Linked DNA regions of Homo sapiens. The protein of the gene in region 3 purifies or fractionates together with the protein of the main gene of each other region. This does not show direct contact. Each region holds a gene or a part of one and is shown on either strand. Other genes may lie near its edges.

Region 1 (4,277 bases), 7.0 Mb from region 3:
TTTTCTTTCACAACCACAAAATTCCTTAAGGGAAGGGACATGTCTCACAAATGTTTATATCTATCGTTTTCTCCCTACCCACCCCCAATCCCAGCACTTAAAATACAAAAAATGGGACAGGAGTGGTGGCTGATGCCTGTAATCCCAGCATTTTGGGAGGCCAAGGCAGGCCGACTGCTTAAGCACAGGCATAAGAGACCAGTTTGGGCAACATGGCAAAACCCTGTTTCTAAAAAACAATAAATAAAATAAAAACAGGCCAGGCGTGGTGGCTCACGCCTGTAATCCCAGCACTTTGGGAGGCTGAGGTGAGCGGATCACAAGGTCAGGAGTTCAAGACCAGCCTGGCTCTACTAAAAATACAAAAGTTAGCTGGGTGTAGTGGCACCTGTAATCTCAGCAATTTGGGAGGCCGAGGCAGGAGAGTTGCTTGAACCCAGGAGGCGGAGGTTGCAGTGAGCCGAGATTGCACCACTGCACTCCAGCCTGGGTGACAGAGCAAGACTCCATATCGAAAAAAAAATAGATAAATACATTTTAAAAATAAAAAATTAGCTGGGTGTGGTGGCTCATGCTTGTAATCCAAGCACTTTGGGAGGCCAAGGTGGGTGGATTACCAGAGGTCAGGAGTTTGAGACCAGCCTGGCCAACATGGCAAAACCCCATCTCTATTAAAAGTACAAAAACTAGCCGGGCATGGTGGCATGCACCTGCATTCCCAGCTACTCGAGAGGCTGAGACGGGAGAACTGCTTGAACCTGGGAGGCAGAGGTTGCAGTGAGCCCAGATTGCACCACTGTACTCCAGCCTGGGTGACAGAGTGAGACTCCCTCTCAAAAAAAAAAAAAAAAAAAGAATTCATAACAGGAAGGTAAAGTGGGTGAACCTCTGAAGCACATTATAACATAAGTAGAGAAAGAGGAAGACAGAGAAAATGTGGAGAGCAGAACAGAAGTGAGAAGTGATCAAGTACTCTCATGAGGTGTGGGAGGGGGGCACTTAGTGGCACCCCACAATCTGCCTTCTGGAGAGACAGATTTCTAACCTTCTGTCTGGACTATGGTGTCAAAGTGCAAGTTGATAATTAACAGAGATTTTTCCTTTCTCTTCATCTCCATGTTCATCTCCAAGGCACTGAACAATGAAGTCAACCTTTTCATAACTGTCCATTTTTAGTTTCATTCATTGCACAAGTGCTTATTGAGCAAGGGATTTTAAGGTGATAAGAGACACACAAACACAGAAGCCCATCCCTGTCCTTAAAGAGCTCCCAATTTGACATAATTTAAATATTCATCTCCAAAGGAATTTAGAGAACCTATCCCAAATCCCAGGTTCCTCTTGGATACAGCATTTTAATCGTCAACACCCAAATCTTGTGATAGAAAAGGGCGGGCACACCAATAACTTGGAAACAACATTTATTTTTAGAATGAGTGCAGTGGCTCAGGCTTGTAATCCCAGCACTTTGGGAGGCTGAGGCGGGAAGATCGGTTGAGTCCAAGAGGTTGAAATCAGCAAGGGCAACATAGCGAGACCCCCATCTCTACAAAAAATAATAATAATTAACTAGGCGTGGTGATTAGCCCCCTGTAGTTCCAGCTACTCAGGAGGCCAAGGTGAGAGGATCCCTTGAGCCCGGGAGTTCGAGGCTGCAGTGAGCTATGATGGCCACTGCACTCTAGCCTAGGTGACAGGGCAAGACCCTGTCTCAAAAAACAAACACAAACAAAAACCCTTATTTTCAAAAATTATGAATTTTGTAAATCTCAGGATTTACATCCCTCTGTTTTTAGTTTTGCAATCCACATAAAACCAAGACAAAACAAAAGCTCTGAGAACTCACCTACTCAAGGTCGCCTTGGCTGCAATTCAGATCACCCGAAAATCCCAAAGCCCAGGCTGCACTTCAGACCAATTAAGTCGGGAAACATCCCAAAGCCCAAGTGCACCTCAGACCAATTAAGTCGGGAATCCAGGCACCCTCAGGTGATTCGAATGTGTAGCCAAGGTTGACAACAACCGCTATAAATCATTCTGCCCTTGAAACGGGAGAACCAGGATCTACATTTTTCAAGAACCAGGATCTATGGCACCGTCACCCTCGTCCCTACACACAGGCCACCAGCAATGTTCCCAGATGCAGTTTTGTGTTTCACGCGGTCAAGAACAGAATCCAATCCTCTCCCACTTGGACAAGTGAGGATGGAGGAAGGTTAATCTAACCCGCCCCGGCCCTGGTCAATATCGCATCCGTGCGGAAGCAGACGCTGGCTCGGCTTTGCGGGCCGCAGAGAAGCCCCCGGACGCCTCTCTCTCCTCCACCTGCTGGGTTCCTGGCTTCGGAATGGGGAGTTGCGGGGGTGGAAAAGAGGAAAGCCCAGCGCCGGGGGACAGGATCGCCATAGGAACGAGCACAGGCTGTCCCCCGAAAGACCGAGACAAAGAGGCGCCCCCCGCCCGAACAAACCGGCGGTACTCACGCAAGTGCCACCCAGCTTGTGGCTCTCCACCACGGCGGCCCTGGCACCCAGCTCGGCCGCCCTGCGCGCGCTGGCCAGCCCGCCCGAGCCGCCCCCGATCACCAGGTAGTCATAGGAGGCCACGGCGCCAGCAGCGGGCGGCGGGCCCTGCGGCTGCGGCTCCTGCCTGCAGGCCATGGCACGGGAGAGGGCGCGCGTGAGGGCCGCGGGCTCGGGCAGAAGCAGCAGGAAGCCTCGGAAGGCGCGCGCCGCCCGCCGCCAGCTCGGTCCCGCGCCGGCGCTCAGGGCTCGGGGCAGCAGGGCCATGCACGCGGAAGTGGCGCGCCAAGTGGGGCGGGCGGCCCGGGGGCGGTCCCCGGGGTAGGGGGGCGCGGGCCCCGGGCAAGCGCAGCCTCACGGTGACTAAGCATGCGCCCGCCGCTAGGCAAGACCCAGGAGGATGCCCAGAGGCGGGGCCGCCTCCCAGTTCCCCGCCCCGGTGGCGGAGCCTGAGGGGTTTCTCCGCCTCCGTTCTCACCCCGGCCCCTGGATCCCGAGCGGCGCCTGCCGCGTGTAGCCTTCTGAAGTCCGGTGGATCGAGGCGAGGAACGGTGAACGTCCTCTCGTTTCAGCTGGCTTTTCCCGAGCTGGCCCCCTGGGGAGTTGCCAGTGGCACGGCTTCTCCAGGAAGAGAAATTTGCCTCTATTCGAAGGGTTGTTTGTCCAGGTTTGTTCCAGAGACCACTTTTGTTTGTTCTTGCTTTTTCTTTGAGACTGGGTCTCACTCTCCCCCAGGCAGGGGTGCAGTGATGCGATCTCTGCTCACTGCAGCCTCCACCTACTGTGCTCAAGCAGCGATCCTCCCTCCTCAGCCTTCCCGGTAGCTGGGAACTACAGGTGCCCGCCACAGCGCCCAGCTAATTTATTTATTTATTTATTTAATTTTTTTTTTTATTTTTTTTATTATTTTTATTTTTTTTTTAGAAATAGGGTCTCACTATGTTACCAGGACTGGTAGGGAACTCTTGGCCTCAAGCGATTCTCTCACCTCGGCCTCCCAAAATGCTAGGATTATGGTATGAGGTCACCACTTCTCCTGTTGTCCTTCTCAGTTTCTCCCCAACCTCCCCTTTTCCCTAGTTTATAAGACAGGAGAAAAGGGAGAAAGCAAAAAGTTGGAAAGAAACAGAAGTAAGATAAATAGCTAGACGACCTTGGCACCACCACCTGGCCCTGGTGGCTAAGATAATAATAATATTATTAACCCCTGACCAAAACTATTGGTGTTATCTGTAAATTCCAGACATTGTATGAGAAAGCACTGTAAAACTTTTTGTTCTGTTAGCTGATGTATATAGCCCCCAGTCACGTTTCCCACGCTTACTTGATCTATTATGATTTTTTCACGTAGACCCCTTAGAGTTGTAAGCCCTTAAAAGGGCTAGGAATTTCTTTTTCGGAGAGCTCGGCTCTCAAGACGCGAGTCTGCCAACGCTCCTGGCCGAATAAAAAACCTCTTCCTGCTTTAATCTGGTGTCTGAGGAGTTTTGTCTGTGACTCATCCTGCTATATTTCTTGGTTCCCTGACTGGGAAGCGAGGTAATTGACGGACAGTCGAGGCAGCCCCTTAGGGGGCTTAGGCCTGCCCTGTGGAGCATCCCTGCGGGGAACTCCCGCCAGCTTGAGCGACGCGGATCCTGCGAGCGCTCCTGGGTAGGCAATTGCCCCGGTGGAACGCCTAGTCAGAGCAGTGCGTGGCAGGCCCCCGTGGAGTATCAACGCAGTGGCTGAACACCGGGAAGGAACAGGCACTTG
Region 2 (3,500 bases), on a different chromosome or scaffold from region 3:
ATCAAACTAAAAAGTCAATAACCATGAAAGTATAACACTGAATAAGGCAAATATTATATTACCTAGTTTTCTCATTGATATAAATATTTATTTATATTTATATGGCACCTTAAGTGTTTCCACATCTATTGTCCATAGAAGAGGAAATTTTTGAGACCTTAGGTTGCTTGCATAATGACATGTAGCTGATTTTAAGACTTTGGTCTTTGCTGTCAAACTGCACAAACTGCACAGGAAGGACAGATTACTTATAAAGAAAGGACGATTCAACAAATAGCTGACTTAATAGCAACAGTGTAAACATGAAGACTGTAGAATACTTTCAAAGTGCTTAGAGAAAATAATTATCAATCTTTATACAAGTTAAACTATCTTTGAAAACATTTAAAACCCAAAATTGAGAGAATTTACTAATAAAAGATCCTCACTTAAAAGAGCTTCTAACATATATGCTTCAGGGGAAAAAAATTAGTGCCAGAGTCTATAAAAGCAGAGGAGTGATGACACAAGAAAATGGTAAATAACATTGTCTAATTTGCAGGACAGAAAAAAAAATAGTACAGAACTAATAATACAGAACTAAAATGCTGAGCAATGATAGTATAATTCAGTAGGAAAGTGACTGTATCCAAAGGTCACTCTACTATTACATAAAAGAATAATTATATTAACTTCAGGCTTCACAGAAATATTAAAATATCCAGAAGAATCCAAGATAGGAGTAAAATAAGTATTTGTAAGACAAAAAAATAAGACACAATATAATGGAAATTAATCCAAATGAACCAATACATGTGAAGAAATTGAACTCTTCAATTTCATGGTGAAAAAAACTATCAAAGTGATTTTTTTAAAAAGTCTAAGCCCAGCAATAACACCCTTTATAAGGGGCATGCCTGAAACAGTAAAAAAATAGGAAAAATGTACCAGGCAAGTACTAAACAAAATAAAGCTGCTGTACTTACATTAAAATGAGACCAAAGACTCAAAGTAACTACTAGAGAAAAAAAATCACCCAATAAAATTTTTAATTCACTAGGAAAATATATCAATTCTAATCTAGATGCACCTACTAAGCTAGCTTAAAAATATTTAAGTAAAAACAAGAAAAAGTAGACAAATCCACTATTCTATTGGGCAATTTTACCAGACACATAAGATAATAAGATAAACAGTGTTACAGCAGAAAAAGTATTGGATCTAAGACAATTTAAATGATTAGCAAACTTGATTTAATGAACACATATAGATCACTGCACTCACCAACTGTACCCAGAATACTTAAGAAAAATGTGCCATATGGTAGGCCATCCATAAGTCCAAATGAATTCCAAAGAATCACACTCACATATAAACCATGTTCTCTGACCACATTAAAATGAAAAAGTACAAAGGAAAAAAAAAAAAACTCATACATTTGGAAATTGAAAACTTCCATTTTCAAATAATACATGGCTCAATAAGAAATCATAATGGTAATTTTTTTTTTTTTTTTTTGAGACAGAGTCTCCCTCTGTCACCCAGGCTGGAGTGCAGGGGCACGATCTCAGCTCACTGCAACCTCTGCCTCCCAGGTTCAAGCAATTCTCCTGCCCTAGTCTCCTGAGTAACTGGGACTACAGGCATGCGCCACCATGCCTGGCTACTTTTTTTTGTATTTTTAGTAGAGACGGGGTTTCACCATGTTGACCAGGCTGATCTCGAACTCCTGACCTCAAGTGATCCACCTGCCTGGGCCTCCCAAAGTGCTGGGATTACAGGTGTTAGCCACCATGCCCGGCCCATAATGGTAATTTTTAAATACTCTAAAAACTGACCCATCATAAAAATGCTCCATAGCAAAACCCATGTACTAACTTTATAGTCATAAATGCTTATATTAGAAAGGAAAAGCTACCAATTTGAAGTAAGCATTCAACTTAAGGAGTTAGGACAAAAACACACTAAACCCCAATAAATAGAAGGAAAAAATAATAAGGCTAAGTGCAGAAATTAGAAATACAAAACATCCAAATTCAGTTATTTGAATACTCTATTAAAACCGACAAATTTCTAACAAAATTAACCAAGAAAAAAATAAAAATTGCATTCAGAATTTTTAAAACAGAAACATAGATGTAGCAAAAACTTAAGAGATAATTTAAGCCAAAATATTTGAAAATGAACAAAAACAGAAAAAATCCTTAGAAAAATAGAAATTACAAAAATTGACTCAAAAAAAAAAGACAGAAAATATAAACCATCAGTAGTTAAAAACTTCCCAGAAACAACAGAGGAAGGCCAGTTTTACACATAATTTCTAGCAAATATAAAGAGAACATATAATTCTGATAAAAAATAGCAAATACTTTCCAACTTAATACACAATAACTAAAAATTAAAATAACCTAAAAAACAGAAAAATGTATAAAATGTGGTATCAGCAGTTAAAATGAAGAAACTAGAGCTACATCTATCAACATAAATGAATCTCAAAAACAATTTAAAAAAAAAAGCAAGTTACATAATACATTATGATATCACTCAAACAAAATTTTAAATCCAACAAAACAATTCCCTATGTTTATGGATGTACAAATGTGTAGTCAAATTATTAAAACCTAAATGATAAATACTCTATCCATAAGTTGTTTCCTCTGGATAAGGCATAAGTTGAAAGATGGGCAAGGGAGATGGGGAAGCTCCATTTTACCATAAAATTTTATTTATTTTAAAGAAAAAAATCTACAACAAATATGGCATATGATAACTATATGAGTAATTTTACTTTTGTCTGTATATTTAAGATTTCTTATAAGAATACTTTAAAAACCAGAGAAGATGCAGTGAAATAGTAAAAACAATAGCTAATATTTATTGAGTGTTTACATTATGCCAAAATGATTCTAAGTGCTTTACATATATTAATTCATGTAATACTCATGTCAACCCCATGACGTAGACAATATTATTCTCCCCACTTTTCAAAGGAGGCACTGAGACACAGAGGCACTGAGACACATAATACAATAAGTATATTACACTGTTATAGTCATTTTGGAAAACAATTTGATAATACTAACCCATGAGAACTGTAAATCTACTTCAGAATATCTGTCTGAAGGAAGTACTCAAAAACATTACAAAGATTTGTGAACAAAAAGGCATGTGTTACTCTGTGGTTACTCAAAAGAAAAGTTAAAACACCTAAAATACAGAACAGTGAAATAGTTATGGAACATCTATATGATAGACTATTATACTACCAATAAAAATATTTGAAAAGAATCTTCAACATGAAAAAATGCTTATACTCTAATGTTAAACAAAAAATAATTCAAAATTATTTTTGTTCCCAACTATGTAAAAAATATACATAGCAGGCTAGAAGAAAATACACAAAAATGTTATAATGAGGTTACCCACAGATGGTGAAATTACAGAGGACTTTTTTTCCTTCAAGTGTATAAATTTACCAAACATTTTAGAATGTATTGCTGATTAGTCAGGAAAAGTTACCA
Region 3 (4,300 bases):
AAAGCTCTAATAAACCCCATCACCTCAAGACAAGACCACCTGAAGAACAAACATTAGCCATTTCTCTAATATAATAGCATCCCACTTCATTAAGTTGAATTAATGTTTGAGAAACTTTCAACAGAAATTGCAGCCAAGAGTGCTTTCCTTAACAAAATTGATCTCCTTCTCCTTGCCCGTAGCACCTACTATTTCACCACCTGACTATGTAGCATTCTGTATTATTATTTGTATGGCCTGGCTCCTCATCAAGTTTATAACCATATTGCCCACAGAAGGGGACTCAAGAATCAAACTCAGGGCGTTGTGGTGCCCGTTTGTAGTCCCAGCTATTCTGTGAGGCGGAGGTGGGAGGATTGCTTGGGCCCACGAGTCCCAGATAATCTGGGCAACATAGCGAGACCCCATCTCAAAAAAAGAATCTAACTGAATGTGCTGAGCTCCTGCTAGACCATCTAAAGCTGCCTGTGGGCTGGGCGCGGTGGCTCGCACCTGTAGTCCCAGCTACTGGGGAGGCTGAGGCAGGAGAATCGCTTGAACCCGGGAGGTGGAGGTTGCAGTGAGCCCAGATCGGGCCACCGCACTCCAGCCTGGGTGACAGAGCGAGACTGTCTCAATAATAATAATAGTAATAATCATGCTGCCTGTGTCCCCTGATGAGACAGCACTGGCCGCAGGTGGCCGCTAACCTCTCGAAATAGGGATGGCCCGAATTGAGACATATGCAAGTCAACACTACACCGGGTTTCAGAAACACATACGATTTTCAAAAGAATTAAAATATCGCATTTAGTTTTTCTATTGATTGCATGTTGAAATCTTACTTTGGATATATTGGATTAAATAAAGTATATCATTAAAATTTTTAAGCTTATGTGCCTATGAGAAACTTCCAAATTACACAGTTGGATGGCGTTATATTTCTCTTGGACAGCAGTGGTCTGAAAGATGACAAAAATCACGATACGTTTGAATCACGCCATGTCTTTAGGGAAAAGAAGAAAGAAGAGTTTCCTTTCGTATCGCTTAGGGGTTCCTCGCAAGAACCATCTGACAGAGAAAAGCCCTGGCTCCCGCCCCAGTGGCTTCTAATTCTGGTCCCCGCGCCCAGAAAGCCGGGAACGGGCAAGCCTGGAAAGGCGTTTTGAAAGGAAACAGGATCCCCCGAGTATAGGATGCGTTTCTGCCTCACAAAAGTCCCTTGGGGGTGGGGGGACGGCAGCGGCTGAGGCGCAGGAAAGAGGAGAGCACACGGGGAGTGGCCCTTGGAACCAGGCGCGCAAAACCTCAGCCCCTAGGCTCCATTTCCAGGTTCGCGGGTGACCTCCCCAAGATGGCCGCCGCCTGGGGGCGGGCCTCCACGCTGCACGGGTGTTGATTGGGTGAGACGACTCAATGATGAGCAATGATTGGTTCACACGGCGCAAGCTGGGCGGAACCGGAAGATGGTGTGAGCCACGGGCTGCCGGGGGCCTGGGGCTCGGCGTCGGTCCCCGGGGGATGTGGAGAGCTGGCAGCATGTCGGCCGAGCTGGGAGTCGGGTGCGCATTGCGGGCGGTGAACGAGCGCGTGCAGCAGGCTGTGGCGCGGCGGCCGCGGGTGAGGAAGGAGGCTGCGTGGGGACGGTGGGCGGCCGCCTTGAGAAGAGGGACACCTGCGTGGGAATGGGTCGTCACGGTGACGCAGAGGGGTCTCCCAGAGAGGCGGGACTGGTCGGCCGCCTAGGGCCACCGAAAGGCTAGCGAAGGGTTTCCCCAGCCTCCTTACCTTGAGTCTGTTAGGTTTTCTGGAGATTGGCTTCGTTGGAGCAGAGGGTACCGCTACCTCGGGAAAATGACTTAGTGCCTAGGTGTCGTGGCCACTTGCGCACCGCGTCGTTTCGGGGTCGATAGCCTTGGCGGATGCGAGGGGGGCCAGGCCTGTGCCCACGGATGGTAAGGGGAGACGGGGGTACAAGAGCACCCCGCGGAGGCCAGAGACGCCCGAGATCGCGTGTGTGGCAGCGTCTCACCTGCTAAGTGCCCAAGAAATGCCAGTGCCGCCCGGAGGCCGAGGTGAGGGTGGACTGGCCGGACTTCGCTGGCATCAGAGCGGCACTTGTTTATGGGGCAGGAGGGAGAAGTCCAATCCCAAGCCGGTTAAGGGGAGCTTTCGTCTTTTGTGTATATATATATTACATCCTCTTGGACTTTGATTAGACCAAGAATCAAAATCTGCCCACCTCAGTGCAAGTTTAAGCTGAATGGTGTGGAATGAGACGGACCTTAACAGAGAGGTCACAGGTTTCTCTGATCGAGCATTTATGCTGGCTGAAGACAAGACCTGTATTATAGTCTTTCTTTGACTATTCCTTAGACGTTACCTTGAACAAGTCAGGTAACTATTCCGGCCCTCAGCTCTGAAAGCTCTGAGATCTCTTCTGATGTTAATATTCTGTGATTCTCGGTGATTCTCCAAGAAAAATCTAGGGCTTCCCCTAATAAACATCACCTTGGAGGTTCTCTCAGGGAAACTCTCAGGCAGATGGGCTGCCTGTTCGGGTAACTCTCTGGAAAGCGTCAATCATCAGCATACTCCCAGTAGTCACGACTTGGACTCAAACGAGGCTGGTTACGCATCGCTGTGGAAGGAAGGAAGAGGAGACATTTTTCTAATTGATCTGACTCCGTCACGTCCTTGAGAACACTGTGATTCTGTGAAAACTTCAGGGGATGATGGATACAAGAAGACTAAATCGTGCAAGGATAAACGAATCTCTTCTCTTACTGTTTCTATGTGGATTGGGTGGCAGCAGAACGCATAGAACCCCCGCTCTTTGTATAGTGGTCGTGAGAGGATGTCACATAGGTCTGATCCTGAATCCAGAATTTTTTGTGTCGCAGCCTTAGTTCTGCCACTGGTTCTTTTCTTTCTTTTTTTTTTTTTTTTTGTTGTGTTGTTTTGTTTTGTTTTGTTTTGTTTGAGACAGAGTCTCGTTCTGTCGCCCAGGCTGGAGTGCAGTGGCACGATCTTGGCTCACCGCAACCTCCACCTCCCGGGTTCACGCAATTCTCCTGCCTCAGCCTCCTGAGTAGCTGGGATTACAGGCACACACCACCACACCTGGCTAATTTTTTGTGTATTTTTAGTAGAGACAGGGTTTCATTATGTTGGCCAGACTGTTGTTTTTTGTTTTATTTTGAGACGGAGTCTCACTCTGTCACCCAGGCTGGAGTGCAATGGCACAGCCTCAGCTCACTGCAACCTCCACCTCCCGGATTCAAGCAATTCTCCTGCCTTAGCTTCCCAAGTAGCTCGGATTACAGATGCCCACCACCACACCTGGCTAAGTTTTAGTATTTTAATAGAGATGGGGTTTCACCTTTTGGCCAGGCTGGTCTCGAACTCGTAACTTCAGGTGATCCACCCACCTCGGCCTCCCACAGTGCAGGGATTACAGGCGTGTGGCTCACCTGGCCATGCCACTGGTTCTTAATTCACAGATTGAACAATCAATTACTTAGTTACCTAAGTGGGCCACTTTTAGAGTAAATGGGGCAGTGTTATTATGGTGTAATGATACACCAGGACTAGAATGAGTCGCCAAACTGCTAACGTTTGGGTTTCAGAAGCCAGAAGTGACCTCTCTTTTACTTAGAGTGCAGCCTTCTATTAATGAAGTGATTCTTAAGCCTCCAACATTAGTATGTCTTAGAGTCATCTGGAGAGATTGTTAAAAAGGAAATTCTCCGCTGGGCACAGTGGCTCATGCCTGTAATCCCAGCACTTTGGGAGGCCGAAGTGGGCAGATCACCTGAGGTCGGGAGTTCAAGGCCAGCCTGACCAACATGGGGAAACCCTGTCTCTACTAAAAATACAGAATTAGTCAGGCATGGTGATGCATGCCTGTAATCCCAGCTACTCAGGAGGCTGAGGCAGGAGAATTGCTTGATCACTTGAACCCAGGAGGCAGAGGTTGCGGTGAGCCGAGATGGCACCATTGCACTCCAGCCTGGGCAACAAGAGTGAAACTCTGTCTCAAAAAAAAAGGAAATTCTCACCCAGGTGATGCCGATGCAGTTGGTCAAAGACCACACTTACAGGAAATACTGCTTTAACTTGCCCGGCTCTCCTGAGAGAGACATTTCTTCTGCTGAATATTGACATCGCTAACATTGATGCATAGATTGAGATGCCATGCGCCTAAAAAACATTTGATCATGATCACCACTATTTGATATTGATCTGCCTACAGTGTTGAAAAAATGGATCTTACCTAATGCCAAGTTGAGATCAATGCCTGTCTATCCTACAGGATCTA
Region 4 (3,479 bases), on a different chromosome or scaffold from region 3:
TTTGGTGCTTTGTTCCAAGTTAAGTGTTTTCAGAAAAGTATGTTTTGCATGTATTTTTTTACAGTCTAAATTTTGACTGCTGAGAAGTTTCTATTGTACAAAACTTCATTTAAAAGGTTTTTCTACTGAATCCAGGGTATTCTGAAGATCGAAGCCTGTGTAAAATGCTACCAAATGGCAAAAAGCAACAATAAACAGTTTGATTTTTACTTTTCTTTCTAACATATCAATGCTTAGCAGAACTATTCAGATTGTCAGTAGTAAATTTAAAGACAAATGCCCGTTTTCCTCCAGTCCATGAAACATACCATACTTATATACCTGCAACTAAGTGTTTAAAATTATGCTCTGTAACTCTGTACTGCTAGTATTAGAACTAAAAATCTTAAAATACAGCCAGTGCTTAATGCTTATATCAATGTGGATTTGTCGGCTTTTATGTAATCTGTAATATGTATAGCAGGAAATACGAAGAGTTACACAGTGTATGCCTTAAAAGGCTGTTTCTTAAAGGTGTTACAAGGGGATAATGGTATTTCAACTAGTTATCAGCAAGTGACAATACATTCCACCACAAATACACTCTTGTTCTTCTAGCTTTTAGACTATATGAAAAAACCGGGTGCTTCAAAGTACATGATAAGGGAACACTATACCTGTCATGGATGAACTGAAGACTTTGCCTGTTCATTTTTTAAATATTATTTTCAGGTCCTTTGCTTACCAAAGGAGGCCCAATTTCACTCAAATGTTTTGAGAACTGTGTTTAAATAAACGCAAATGAAAAGAAAAATGTTGGTGCAGCTGTTCACAAAGAAGTGTTCTTGTTCTATTATAATTAGAGTTCTTCTGTAGTTTAATCGTTAGGGCAGTGTGTTCCTTGGGCTGAGGTGTATCTTTGCTATTTTGGGCTGGGTTGAGGGGGGGATGAATTTCTGTATTCCTGGAAAATTCAGAGTGCATAACTAGGTATTAGAGTGATCTCCATTTGGGGATGGAGTTACAGTAAATAACTAGACTGCGGGTACTTTAATACATGTTCTTATTATTTTGCATTTAAGTAATTTTCATGACCAATTGTAGGGATGTTGCTACAGGTGGGTTATTTTGTTGCCTTGCTAACCTTTATCGCATCTAGGTATTAGTATGTTTCAGGTACTTTGGGAAGAACTTTACATATAATCTTTAGCAATGAAATGATGTAGAGTAACTTACCTTAGTTCAAATAGCTGTTTAAGTGGCAATGCCACGATCTGAATTGAACCTAGGTGATCTTAGTCCACAGTTCTCTTGATCATGATGTCTCAAATCTGGGTACCTGGGTGATGGAAAATACCAGTAATGGAGCATAGGCAGTATTGGCAGGTCTTAATTTGTAAAACTTACTGTCCAGGGTGTTTTCAGTGTTTGCCAACTTGTGGTAAATTAATATGCTTAGAGAACTACCCTTAGGTTTGTTTCTGATAAGCATGTGGAAACAACTTAGTATATGCCTGATGGGTTATTTCAAATTGTTCTCAATGAGTTTTGAAACAAGAATTTGTAGTATTTATATATAAAGTTGAGTTTTAGGGTGTGGTCCCAGAGGGGGTTGTGTTATGGATGGATACATTAAAGGCTGAGAAACCTGGTTTTATCGTGGTAGTATATACAGGCATCCTTTCCTGAAGTAACTACATTCTCCACCATTTTCTCCCCAACCAAACCTCTCCCCATCAGTTAACTGATGGCTTGCGAGTTCACACTCCTGATAATCTCGAACATAACCCTCGGTTTCTATCCTAAAGCCTGAGTTTTAGCCCTTTAGTTGTGTAGCCATCCTTTATCCTGCTGATTGAAAGTTTCCTTTTTTAGGCTAGTTTGAGTTGTTTTCTGGCTTTTAGATTTGAAAGAATTTTAGCCATTTGACATGGCTACAAAGAGTGTTAACAGGCAAAAGACTGAGGAAAATTTGGAATTTTACCAAGTTGAGATAGACTGAGAAGTAGTGAGACAAAGTGGTAGTCTTTTGATGTGCTGTAATGCTAGTCGCCAGTTTCATGAAAGGGAGGCAGCAGTTACCCGTAGGTAACCCCTAGGTAACTGCTGCCATGGGCAGCTGAATCAGACAAAAGCCATGGGAAAGGATAAATTTGAGTCTTAAAGTTACTGCCTCAAGGCAAAGGGACTTGGAGGCTTTTATATGCCAATACAAACAATCCATTTCTTATAGCTGTAGGGCTGAGACTACTAAAACCAAATGTAAAGTTCATTTGGAAGATTGCTAAGTTAAATAGTTTTATACTAGGCTTTTGTGAAACTTCTCAGGAAATCAACAGGGTCCCAGCAAGTGGAAATAAGGCTGTGTCAAAAGATTTGTAGACCTGGGAGCAGGGGTTTCCGATCTCCTGGCCATGGATTGCCTGAGCTCCGCCGCCTGTCAGATCAGCAACAGCAGATTTTCATAGCAGGAATCCTATTGTGAAGTGCGCTTGAGAGGGATCTAGCTTGCACATTTCCTTATGGAAATCTAACTACATGTTAGAGAATGCTCAAGGTCTGCAATGTTTACATTGTTGCCCCTACATAAGGAATATATGCCTTAAGATAAAACTAATAGCTCTTAGCCCTCTTACACCATTGACTAGGATTCCAATTCTGCAAGGCCCAGGAGGAGAAATTGAGAATTAGAAGTTTCACCGAGAAGAAATAAAAAGATTTGGTTTGCATTATCAAAATTTCTGTAAATTATATGGAAATTTTGAGGATGGATTAGGCTGGATTTATTAGCAGTGGACACGCCTCCAATATTCCTTCAGCATGCCATCTCAGTGGATTTTGATTGGCTCTTGTAGGATTGGACTTAATGCTAGCTTATGCCAAATGTCATCAAAAAGCCAGAATGCTACTACAGTAATGTAAAGGATTATTGTATATAGTGTAAAGGATTATTATGTGTAATCTTTAATATATAATGTAAAGACTTAAAAGTGACAAGAATACTGGATTGGTTCTATTCCACTCACTCTGTCCCTTACTAGCAAGACAAGACCCAAAATAATCCCTTCTCCCCATGAGTAATCAGTTGATGAAGTTAAAACTATTTCAAGAGCTTTACTGGCCTGGCAAGAGGAGATGAATTGAAATGGGATCCCACGTTAGTACTAAGAGACCAGTTAATCACTGTTTTTTGGTGGGGGGGGGGGTTCGTTGGTGTGTGTGTGTGTGTGTGTGTGTGTGTGGTTTTTTGAGACAGTTTCACTCCTGTTGCCCAGGTTGGAGTACAGTGGCACGATCTCAGCTCACTGCATCCTCCACTTCCCAGGTTCAAGCGGTTCTCCTGCCTCGGCCTCCCAAGTAGCTGAGATTACAGACGTGCACCACCACGCCCGGCTAATTTTTGTATTTTTAGTAGAGACAGGGTTTGACCGTGTTGGTCAGGCTGGTCTCGAACTACTGACCTCGGGTGATTCACCCACCTCGGCCTCCCAAAGTGCTGA
Region 5 (3,500 bases), on a different chromosome or scaffold from region 3:
AAAGTGTTGGGATTACAGGTGTGAGCCACCACGCCCAGCCAGTTTTATTTTATTTTTGAGTCTCACTCTGCTGCCCAGGCTAGAATACAGTGGTGTGATCTCAGCTCACTGCAACCTCCGCCTCCTGGGCTCAAGTGATTCTCCTGCCTCAGCCTCGAGTAGCTGGGATTACAGCTGCCTGCCACCACGCCCGGCTAATTTTTGTATTTTTAATAGAGACAGGGTTTCTCCATGTTGGCCAGGCTGGTCTCAAACTCCTGACCTCAGGTGATCCTTCCACCTTGGCCTCCCAAAGTGCTGGGATTACAGGTGTGAGCCACCACGCCTAGCCTTAGATTGGCATCATTTAAATATTTTATTAGCCGCTCAGCCATAGTATGAAACTTTAACTTAAAGAGAATAGTCACTTCATTTAAGGGTATTATGACAAGTTTGTTACTTTCCTAGTTATCAAATAATAATTCAGAATAAGTTGTGCAGTTCTTGTAGTATGTACCAAAGTGATTAAACTCACCTTTTTGGGGGTGATGGGGAGGTGGGATGGAAGTCTTGGTAAAAAGGCACCAGCCTGCTTAAATGGCAGATTGAACTTAATCATGAAAATGCTCACAGCAACCCTTAATGAGTCAAGTTCTGGGTTATTGACACCATTGATGACTACTTGAATTGTTTTATGAGAAAGGAAAGTGATTTTTAATTACATCTGAATCGCTTAATTTCTGATTCTCGGTAAAGTATGATGATGAAGAAAGATGATGGTTCCTATCTCTCGGGGTTGTGAAGATTAAACAAAATATGTAAAAACAGGAGTTAAAAATCAGTGATAAATATGTATTTACTGCCCAGAATGCATTTGGTCTGTCTTTATATGAACATATTTTCCAGTAAATACTAGCTGACTTTATTTGTTTTAGGATGGCTGTTCAGTGGGAGTCTTTAAGATGTTTTTGAAATTGCTCCCCAAGTCTCCCGTATTCCCCAATATAGATCCATCTCTAGTCTTAACATCATCAGCTCCGTTTTAGTTTGTCTTTCATTGTTGCTGTGATTACCACAAACTCCGTGTAGCCGTCGCGAGCCATAGGATTGTGCCCATTCAGTGAATGCTTTGTAGTGTGTTGCATGCAGAGTGTGTGCACCGGCTCAGGTCTGTGTTCCAGTTCCCAGCACACTCTTTCAAGCTAGGTGATATTGGGCAAGTTGATTGTGAAAATGGAAAATTTGAAAATGGGAAGAATATCTGCTTCATGAGGATTAGATAAGATGAGGGATGTAATTGTCTAGCAAGGAGGAAGACTTAGTAATTATTATTTGCTTGTGTGTGTGTTTGAGATGTAATGCACATATCATAAAATTCACCCACTGAAAGTGAACAATGTCGTGATTTTTAGTATATTCACAGGGTTGTGCAAACAACACTACGATCAATTGCAGCACATTTTCTTTTCTTTTCTTTTTTTTTTTGAGATGGAATCTCGCTCTGTTGCCTAGGTTGGAATGCAGTGGCACGATCTTGGCTCTCTGCAACCTCCGCCTCCTGGGTTCAAGCAATTCTCCTGCCTCAGTCTCCCAAGTAGCTGGGACTACAGGCACGTACCACCACGCCTGGCTAATTTTTGTATTTTGAGTAGAGATGGGATTTCACCATGTTGGCTAGGCCGGAACGCCTGACCTCAGGTGATCCACCCACATCAGCCTCCCAAAGTGCTGGGATTACAGGTGTGAGCCACCACACCCATCCAAACTGCAGTACGTTTTCATAACCTCCAAAGGAAAACCTCGTACCATTAGCAGTCGTATCCTCACTCCCCCCACCCACTCCCTGGCAACCTCTAATCCTCTTTTTATTTCTATGGTTTTGTTAATTATTACTAATAGCAATAGTAATAATAATGATAGCTGCTTGGTCCCCTTGCCGTTTAAATGAAACCTTTTGTGGTTTTGGACTTATTGCCAGGCAGGTTGATGTCTTAGAGAGTGTTATTATATGATTTTAGCCACAGGAAAATGTTACCTTTCAGGTAGGTTCTGGACATTAGTTCTGATATGCAAGGATTAGCAAACGAAACACAATGAACTTGGCTCCCTGGTCTGGCACAGCTGAGAGTGCCCTTGAATGGGGTGGCTGCATCACAACCCGACATGCTGGGCGTCAGTTCCAGTGGACAGGAATGGCAGGATCAGCTGGTGATTTGTGAGAGTGGTTGTCAATAATTTCTGTGATGGAAAGTGACTCTACTGTTTAAATAAATCATACAGAACAGTGATGCCACAAACATTTCTGTTAGTGCTGGTGTTTTCTTTGGTGAGGAAAGGAAGGTAGAGGATTCACAGACCTTGGCTGAGCCCCAGGTAGCCATTTTCTGAATGAACTTGGGAAGGTCACTTTACCCCTAGGCCTTAGTTTCCTCATCTATGAAATGGGAATGAGAACTTCGTATCCTCGGTCATTTCATATCCTCAGTCTTGCACGAACTGAGAGCCTTAGTATTGCAGTAGGGGGTGGCTTCTGTGGGATAAAGGACACAGCTTTGAAATCAGATAGGTTTGGTTGGGATTGGATTCCAAACTGTACTTTGAAGTTGTGGTCAAGTACCTTTAAATGGAACTTCAGGTTTCCTGATCCATGAAAATTAGCTGGACATGGTGGCACATGCCTAGAATCCCAACTACTCGCTAGGCTGAGGCACTTGAGCCCAGGAGGTTGAGCCTGCAGTGAGCCGTGATCGTGCCGCTGCACTCCAGCCTGGGCAACATAGACTGTGTCTCTAAACAAATAATAAAAAAAAAGGATTAGGACGGCTGAGTGGGTTAAGTGGACCACCCAAGGTGTCAGGCATAGAGGAAGGGATTGGTACCACTGCCTTTCCTGGATGGGATTAGCTACTCCAAAACAAGCTATTTTGCTCTGTTCAAGAACAAGAGTATTTCAGAGCTTTCCTTCCTGTAGATTAATTTAAAGCTGCTAGTATGTCCAGTTGCTGAACCTGTCTTGACAGGTGTCTCTGTTCTTAGCTCTTGAGGCTAGTGCGCCTCTAGGCAAGATGTCCCTGCCCATCGGGATATACCGCCGGGCAGTCAGCTATGATGATACCCTCGAGGACCCTGCGCCCATGACTCCTCCTCCATCGGACATGGGCAGCGTCCCTTGGAAGCCAGTGATTCCAGAGCGCAAGTATCAGCACCTCGCCAAGGTATCTGACCCTGCTGGCCATTTCTGGCATACGCAACCCCTTTGTCCTTCCTCTGCTCCAGAAGCCTTCAGTGGCTCCCTGTGCCCATGGGACTGGGCAGCAACCACTCCCTGTATGTGTTTTCTGTGCCTCAGTTATAGCTGTCTTTTTTTTTTTTTTAAGATTTTATTTATTTTGTTAAAAAAAAAATCAGTAGCTTTAGGGTTACCCGAGGTGTTGTTCGCATGGATGAATTGTATAGTGGTGAAGTCTGGGCTTTTAGTGCACCCGTCACCCGAATAGTGTACAGTGTACCCAATAGATGGT
Region 6 (3,500 bases), on a different chromosome or scaffold from region 3:
AGAGGGTGTACTGGCATTAGGCTGAGCTAAGCACAAAACACATATATTCCTTTCACTCTTCTAGTGCCTGTAGGAGGAAAGGGAGGCATATGTGTGCTTGTGAAGGATTCCATTCATCAGAATCCCAGACATCTGCCAGTTCTGCAGCTAGAGGCTGGGTTCTTTGACCTCTAAGTAACTTTAAACACGCATCTCATCTCGCCAGCTTCTTCCACTCGGTTTAGCCATTAGGAGCTTGGAGCAGGGTGAAGGATTGCATAGTGCTCTGTTTGTTTAGAAAGGGAAGATGGGTCCAGGAAGGTCAGAACTTGGCTTCTAAAGAAAGATTAGACTTCCTTTCCTCCAGGCTTGTCAGAATGGTGAGCAAATGCCAGTGGATTTTCTCTGGGCGAGATCCCCATAACGCTAAGTGATTTCCACTAGTAGGTGATCATGAAAAGGGTGTCATTTCTTTCCTCATTGCCTTGAGGCACATCAATAATTCAACTCCATAAAAATATATCCTGGGTTGAAACAGTTCAGGTGTCTGACTTCCCAGTTTGGAACCCCATTATCCAGACGGCATCTGCATAAATTGGTTAATGGGTGCTGTTGAAGAGAGTGTGATTTGTCCAATGGCCGAACTCAGGAGTCCTTGAGTACTTGACCCAGGAAGACAGGGGAGAGTAGGCTTAGCAATTAAAGGGTTGCCCAAGGTACATTCCTTAGAGCCTATGTGTTCCAGCTGCAAAAGCAAGCATTAAAAATAAATAAATAAATAAAAGGCCGATGTAGTGGCTCACACCTGTAATCTCAGCACTTTGGGAGGCTGAGGCGGGTGGATCACCTGAGGTCGGGAGTTCGAGACCAGCCTGACCAACATGGAGAAACCCCGTCTCTACTAAAAATACAAAATTAGCTGGGTGTGGTGGCGCATGCCTGTAATCCCAGCTACTTGGGAGGCTGAGGCCGGAGAATCACTTGAACCTGGAAGGCAGAGGTTGCGGTGAGCCGAGATCACGCCATTGCACTCCAGCCTAGGCAACGAGAGCGAAACTCCGTCTCAAAAAAAAAAAAAAATGCCCATTCATTATTGCTCAGGGGTGAGAGAGGTGATAGTTAGAAAATTGTGAAAAATCTGGCTGGGCACAGTGGCTCATGCCTGTAATCCCAGCACTTTGGGAGGCTGAGGCAGGTGAATCACGAAGTCAGGAGTTCAAGACCAGCCTGACCAATATGGTGAAATCCCGTCTCTACTAAAAATACAAAAATTAGCTGGACGTGGTAGCATGCACCTGAAGTCCCAGCTACTCGGGAGGCTGAGGCAGGAGAATTGCTTGAACCGGGGAGGCGGAGGTTGCATGAGCCAGGATCATGCCACTGCACTCCAGCCTGGGCAACAGAGCGAAACTCTGTCTCAAAAAAAAAAAAAAGAAAATTATGAAAAATCTGTGGGTTCTTGCAGTGGCAAAGAAAAAAAAGAAAAAATTATGAAAAGTCAGCCTGGGCAACAAAATTAAACCTCATCTTAAAAAAAAATTTTTTTTAGCCTGCTTTGGTGGCATGCACACACCTGTAGTCACAGCTACTCAGGAGGCTCATTGAGCCCAAAAGATTGATCCCAAAACAGTGAGCTGTGATGCTATGATTGTGTTACCGTACTCCAGGCTGGATGATAGAGCGAGACTCTGTCTCAAAAAAAAAAAAAAAAAAAGAAGAAAGAAAATTATGAGAAGTGTCTCATAACCTCTCAATTCTGATGTTGTACAAATATTCAGTGAGAGCTTCTTGGTGAATCTTGACTTTATAATCCCTGCCTTTCCTACCTTAGATACTCCTAGGGTTTCTCCCAAGAGAAGCCCCATCACTTTATCTGGTTGGATAGTTTGGGAATGTCATGAAGGAATAAACTGGCAGGCAGGGTGTCTGTGAGGTGCTTTCACATCTGGCCAAGCTGTGCCATGCTCCCACGCTCCTACTGTTCTCCGGAGAAGACATAGGCAGCTTTCCCCTTACAAGACTGATTTGGCATGACTGGGACTGTCTGTGTGTGTCTGCAGTCAGGGATTCCTGGCAGACAGATTTAGCCACTGGAATCACCTCTGAGCATGCCTGAGAAGGTCCAGGGAAGACATGGATAAAGACAGGGAGCTGTATACCTCTGCATCCAGGAATCAGTTGTGGTCAGACTGCTGGCACCTGCTTATGGATTTGTTTTTATTTTTTTATAGAGACAGGGTCTCACCATATTGCCCAGGCTGGTCTTGAACTCCTGGGCTCAGGCAGTCCTCCCGCCTTGGCCTCCCTAAGTATGCTTATTGATTTGAAAACCCTGAAGATCAAATCTGATCACAGGAGCTCAATCATTTCTTTAAAAAATGTTTGATTTTTTTATTATGTGCAGAGGACTGTGCTAGGCTGGGGTGACAACTATAAACAAGGCAGAAACGGTCCCAGTTCTCATGGAGCATAAAATATTTGCTGGCCGGGCGTGGTGGCTCATGCCTATAATCCCAGCACTTTGGGAGGCCAAGGCAGGCTGATCATTTGAGGTCAGGAGGTCGAGACCAGCCTGACCAACATGGTGAAACCCCGTCTCTACTAAAAATACAAAAAAGGTGCCAGATGTGGTGGCTCATGCCTGTAGTCCCAGCTTCTCGGGAGGCTGAGGCAGAAGAATCACTTGAACCTGGGAGGCGGAGGTTGCAGTGAGCTGACACTCCAGTCTGGGTGACAGAACGAGACTCCATCTAAACAAAAATAATAATTAAAAAAAAATGAAGTATTTGCTGTGTTATATGTGCAAAGCATATGGGCTATGAGGGCCCACAGCATGGTGTGGTCATACCTTGGGTGGGAAATCCCTAGGCTAGGAACTGCTTACAGCTAGGCTGCAGATGTTAGCTCCTTAAGTGCTTCAGGAAGCTGCTCCCATCCCCAGTTCTGGGGATGTGTTAGTCTGTTTGGAGTAGCAGGACAGGTGCCCACTGCCTTCTGGCCTAATAAACCTTAACAACGGGATCTTTTGCAACCACTTAATATACACTGGGTTGTGTTCATTGTATTTGATCTTAAAGAAAAATAGGTAAAAATTTTACAGTTTGATTGGTCTTGATTTCTGGAAATAACATTGACTTCTGGTAAACAGTACACATCAGGGATATTATACTTAGAAACTTTGTAAGGTGGAGTCAAAATTAATTGTCACAAAAATGTGTATTTTTTTTTTTTTTTTTTTTTTTTGAGATGGAGTCTTCGCTCTGTTGCCCAGGCTGGAGTGCAGTGGCACGATCTCAGCTCACTGCAAGCTCCGCCTCCTGGGTTCTCGCCATTCTCCTGCCTCAGCCTCCTGAGTAGCTGGGACTACAGGCGCCTGCCACCACTCCCGTCTAATTTTTTGTATTTTTAGGAGAGACGGGGTTTCACTGTATTAGCCAGGATGGTCTCGATCTCCTGATCTTGTGATCCGCCTGCCTCGACCTCCCAAAGTGCTGGGATTACAGGTGTGAGCCACCACACCC
Region 7 (3,500 bases), on a different chromosome or scaffold from region 3:
AAAGTGCTGGGATTACATGCATGAGCCACCTCACCCAGCCTGTTTCTTGTTTTAAATATAGAGATGGTGTCCCACTATCTTGCCCAGGCTAGTCTTGAACTCCTGGTCTCGAGTGATCCTCCTGCCTCTGCCTCCCAACAGACACCTAGTTTAAATGGGGCACCAATACCCCACTTACACGAGAGGGACCCACTCAAGCCCACAGAGCTGGGGGTCCGAGCCCAGGACTGTCTCTCTGTTTTTGAGATAAGGGTCTAGCTCTGTTGCTCAGGCTGTAGTGTCATGGTGCTGTGGTGCGATCATGGCTCACTGCAGCCTCGGACTCCCAGAATCAGGCAATCCTCCCACCTCAGCCTCCTGAGTAGCTGGGACTACAGGCACACCATCATACCTATCTAATTTTTGTATAGAGAGGATTTCACCATATTGCCCAGGCTGGTCTCGAACTCCTGGGCTCGAGGGATCCGCCCGCCTCAGCCTCCCAAAGTGTTAGGGTTACAGGTGTGAGTCACTGCACCTGGCCAGGCCTACCCCTTTTAAGCCTCTGCACTGGCCTCCGCTCACTGGCCCAAGCTCTGGAGCTAGGCTGCGGTGTTCTGATCCCAGCTCTGCCAGACCCTGGCTGTTTAACTCTAGGCAAGTTACTTGACCCCTCTGTGCCTTGGTATCCTCACCTGAAAATGGGAGTGATACCTGCCTCTCAGGGTTGCTACAGGATGAAGCAACTGAAGGTTACGTACTCAGAGTCCACAGCGAGTGCTGGGGGAATGTCCCCTTTGGGATCTCTGGGGATCAAGACCTTCTGGGGGCTCTTAGAGAGTGAGTCTGGCCTGTTCTCGCCCCACTGCACCTGTTACAGGGCGAGGCACACACACAGAAGTGCCTGGCATGTGTGGCTTGAATGAACAAGGGACTGTTTTGCCAACCCATTGTGCAAGTATTGAGTCCCTGCTTATGGAGGAGGGAAACTGCAGATCAGAGAGCCAGTGACTGGCCCGAGCTCGAGGGCGGGGCTGGGATCTGGCAAAGCCTCAGTCTCTGACCTCAAGGCTCAAATAGACTGTGGGCTCCTCTGCAGCCTCCTCAATGCCTGGTCCAGGTCTGGGACCCCATGGGAGGTTTGACGAGGGTACCAGCGAATGAGGAGGTGAGTGGTGAGCAAGCCTCGAGATCCATAGTTACAAGAGTGGCCTTGCATGCATCTGATAGAGGGACAGTGAGGCCTGAGGCTGCAGAGGGATTCAAATCCCCTGGCCAGGTGTGGTGGCTCACGCATGTAATCCCAGCACTTTGGGAGGATCACCTGAGGCCAGGAGTTCAAGACTATCCTGGCCAACATGGCAAAACCCCATCTCTACTAAAAATATAAAAATTATCCAGGCATGGGGGCGGGGCGCCTATAATCCCAGCTACTCTGGAGGTTAAGGCAAGAGAATTGCTTGAACCAAAGAGGCGGAGGTTGCAGTGAACTGAGATTGTATCACTGCACTCCAGCATGGGTGACAAAGTGAGACTGTCTCAAAAAAAAAAAAGAAAAGGCAGATGACTCCAAAGACTCTCTCAGGTGCTCCGGGCCTGGCACCTGCTCCCCAATGCTCTCCACAGGGCTCACCTGGCAGAAGGTGGGGCTGTGGACAGCTGACAGCGCCCGGCACAGAGCGTCCACATCGTTGAAGCCAGGTGGCAGGCGGTCCACACAGAGGCAGCGGGAGTGGAGAAGGGCAGGCGTCAGTTGCCCGGCATCCGTCCAGTGCACGTAGAGGGTGCGTGGTCCCAGCGGCTTGCCCAGCAGGTCCGACTTGGCACGGGCAGCCGAGTCCTTCTTCATGTACTCAGCAAAGCCATAGCCCTTGGATTGGCCAGTGCGCTCACTGTAGACCAGGAAGCAGCGCTCCAGGCTGCCGAAGGGCCGCACCAGCTCCTCGAACTGCTGCTGTGTGAGGCTGGGGGGCAGGTTGGCCACACACAGCAGGGCATCCGTGGGCTGCAGCTGCACCGACAGTTCACGCTCCCGCAGGCGGCTCTGGTGGAAAGCATTGATTGCGGCCTCGGCCTGCTCCCCATTCAGCAGGGTCACGAAGGCTGCGGTGGGAGGAGGGCAGTGCGAGGTCAGCCGGGCCCTGAGGGCCTGCCCCTCCACCCCGCCACCCTGCAAACCAGGTGGGACCTCCAAATGCTGGGCATCTCAGGTGCCTGCTGATCTGAGCAGTTGCCAGCCTTGGCGACTCACACAGGCGAGAGCGCCTGCCATTGACTCTAGGCTCCACGAAGCCCACTCCCTCTCCCAGCCCTGCGTCCACCTGCACCCACAGCAGCGCTCACCAACTGTGGGCCTGGCTCTGTCCTAAGAACGCTGTGGGTCACTCGGGTGATACCAAGGGCAGTGGTTAAGCCCATGCTCACTGGGGCCCAGATTTAAGCCCCAAGCCCCAGGTGGCTTTGGGGGTATCAGTTTCCTCATCTCTCAAATGGATATAACTTAATCATCACAATCACCATTTTGCCAGAGAGGAAACGGGCCCAGAGCAGCACCCCTGTGCCCCGAGTAGGGGAGCCTGGACTTGAACCCAGGCAGCCGGACTCCAGAGGCCCACTCTACACACTGCCCACCCCTGCCACCTTTCCAGGCCACCAGTGCCCCTGAACCCTGCTGCCACGTGCTGCCCCAGATTTGCGATCCACCCAGCGGCCGCAGGAAGCTTTGTTCAAAACGATCACGCCACATCCATCTTGTGGCTTCTAGCTGCAGGGTGCAGTGCAGCCTGTGCGGGCTCGCTGACCTCCCCTCCCATCTCACCGCTGCCACCCGGACCACGCCAGGCACACTCCAGAGGGGCCTTTGCAGCTGCTGTTTCTTGAGCATGGAACACTGAGCCCCACCTCCTCACCTGGTTAACCTGGACCCACCCAGGTAGAAACCCTGTCTCTACTAAAAATACAAAAATTAGCCGGGCATGGTGGCACATGCCTGTAATCCCAGCTACTCGGGAGGCTGAAGCAGGGGAATGGGCTGAACCCAGGAGGCGGAGGTTGCAGCGAGCCGAGCTCGCGCCACTGCACTCCAGCCTGGCGACAGAGCAAGACTCCATCTCAAAAAAAAAAAAAAAAAGACCACACAAGCAGGGGTGACTGGCTGAGTGAGGCAAGAGGGGTAAGAAGAGAATGAACCCACGGCCAAACGTTGTCAAGAATTAGCTCAATGCCAAGCGAGTGGAGTAGGAAGAGAATCAGCCCGATGCCCAGTGTTCTCCAAGGAGAACATGAAGGCTGTCCCAAGATGACAGGATGACAGGCAGATTGGGGCAACCTGCCATGTTGGCCTGGGGGGCAATACTGGGCCTGAAGCTCAGAGCAGCAGACAGTGAGCCAGGCCCTCCCATCTTCAGGGATGGTCACTCCCTGCCCTGGCCCGCCCCATGGCCCCACAAACCTGTCCCTTTGTATTTGTCCACAAAACAGTATTTGAGCTCATAGTCACTGAGCAGGTCATGTACTTCCTG

Evidence for each region.
Region 1: the proteins of PLPBP (region 3) and GSR fractionate together in Homo sapiens (co-fractionation; one large-scale study listed by BioGRID). This does not show direct contact.
Region 2: the proteins of PLPBP (region 3) and MYEF2 fractionate together in Homo sapiens (co-fractionation; one large-scale study listed by BioGRID). This does not show direct contact.
Region 4: the proteins of PLPBP (region 3) and TRA2B purify together in Homo sapiens (affinity purification with mass spectrometry, with the first as the bait; one large-scale study listed by BioGRID). This does not show direct contact.
Region 5: the proteins of PLPBP (region 3) and KIAA1191 purify together in Homo sapiens (co-immunoprecipitation; one large-scale study listed by IntAct). This does not show direct contact.
Region 6: the proteins of PLPBP (region 3) and HK1 fractionate together in Homo sapiens (co-fractionation; one large-scale study listed by BioGRID). This does not show direct contact.
Region 7: the proteins of PLPBP (region 3) and RAVER1 fractionate together in Homo sapiens (co-fractionation; one large-scale study listed by BioGRID). This does not show direct contact.

What each region holds. Positions count from the first base shown.
Region 1 is NC_000008.11:30,725,047-30,729,323, forward strand, and holds the start of GSR (glutathione reductase, mitochondrial isoform 1 precursor), read right to left. Parts: upstream 2,801-4,277; 5' UTR 2,790-2,800; coding exon 2,484-2,789; intron 1,976-2,483; exon of another isoform or gene 1,847-1,975; intron 1-1,846. UniProt on the Homo sapiens protein: Catalyzes the reduction of glutathione disulfide (GSSG) to reduced glutathione (GSH). Constitutes the major mechanism to maintain a high GSH:GSSG ratio in the cytosol.
Region 2 is NC_000015.10:48,154,296-48,157,795, forward strand, and holds part of MYEF2 (myelin expression factor 2), read right to left. Parts: coding exon of another isoform or gene 3,485-3,500; exon of another isoform or gene 2,832-3,484; intron 1-2,831. UniProt on the Homo sapiens protein: Transcriptional repressor of the myelin basic protein gene (MBP). Binds to the proximal MB1 element 5'-TTGTCC-3' of the MBP promoter. Its binding to MB1 and function are inhibited by PURA.
Region 3 is NC_000008.11:37,761,160-37,765,459, forward strand, and holds the start of PLPBP (pyridoxal phosphate homeostasis protein), read left to right. Parts: upstream 1-1,500; coding exon 1,501-1,599; exon of another isoform or gene 1,600-1,654; intron 1,655-1,767; exon of another isoform or gene 1,768-2,105; intron 2,106-4,300. UniProt on the Homo sapiens protein: Pyridoxal 5'-phosphate (PLP)-binding protein, which may be involved in intracellular homeostatic regulation of pyridoxal 5'-phosphate (PLP), the active form of vitamin B6.
Region 4 is NC_000003.12:185,914,058-185,917,536, reverse strand, and holds the end of TRA2B (transformer-2 protein homolog beta), read left to right. Parts: 3' UTR 1-2,979; downstream 2,980-3,479. UniProt on the Homo sapiens protein: Sequence-specific RNA-binding protein which participates in the control of pre-mRNA splicing. Can either activate or suppress exon inclusion. Acts additively with RBMX to promote exon 7 inclusion of the survival motor neuron SMN2.
Region 5 is NC_000005.10:176,355,265-176,358,764, reverse strand, and holds part of KIAA1191 (putative monooxygenase p33MONOX), read left to right. Parts: intron 1-3,015; coding exon 3,016-3,194; intron 3,195-3,344; exon of another isoform or gene 3,345-3,500. UniProt on the Homo sapiens protein: Potential NADPH-dependent oxidoreductase. May be involved in the regulation of neuronal survival, differentiation and axonal outgrowth.
Region 6 is NC_000010.11:69,321,847-69,325,346, forward strand, and holds part of HK1 (hexokinase-1), read left to right. Parts: intron 1-3,500. UniProt on the Homo sapiens protein: Catalyzes the phosphorylation of various hexoses, such as D-glucose, D-glucosamine, D-fructose, D-mannose and 2-deoxy-D-glucose, to hexose 6-phosphate (D-glucose 6-phosphate, D-glucosamine 6-phosphate, D-fructose 6-phosphate, D-mannose 6-phosphate and 2-deoxy-D-glucose 6-phosphate, respectively).
Region 7 is NC_000019.10:10,327,030-10,330,529, forward strand, and holds part of RAVER1 (ribonucleoprotein PTB-binding 1), read right to left. Parts: intron 3,498-3,500; coding exon 3,431-3,497; intron 2,083-3,430; coding exon 1,613-2,082; intron 1-1,612. UniProt on the Homo sapiens protein: Cooperates with PTBP1 to modulate regulated alternative splicing events. Promotes exon skipping. Cooperates with PTBP1 to modulate switching between mutually exclusive exons during maturation of the TPM1 pre-mRNA.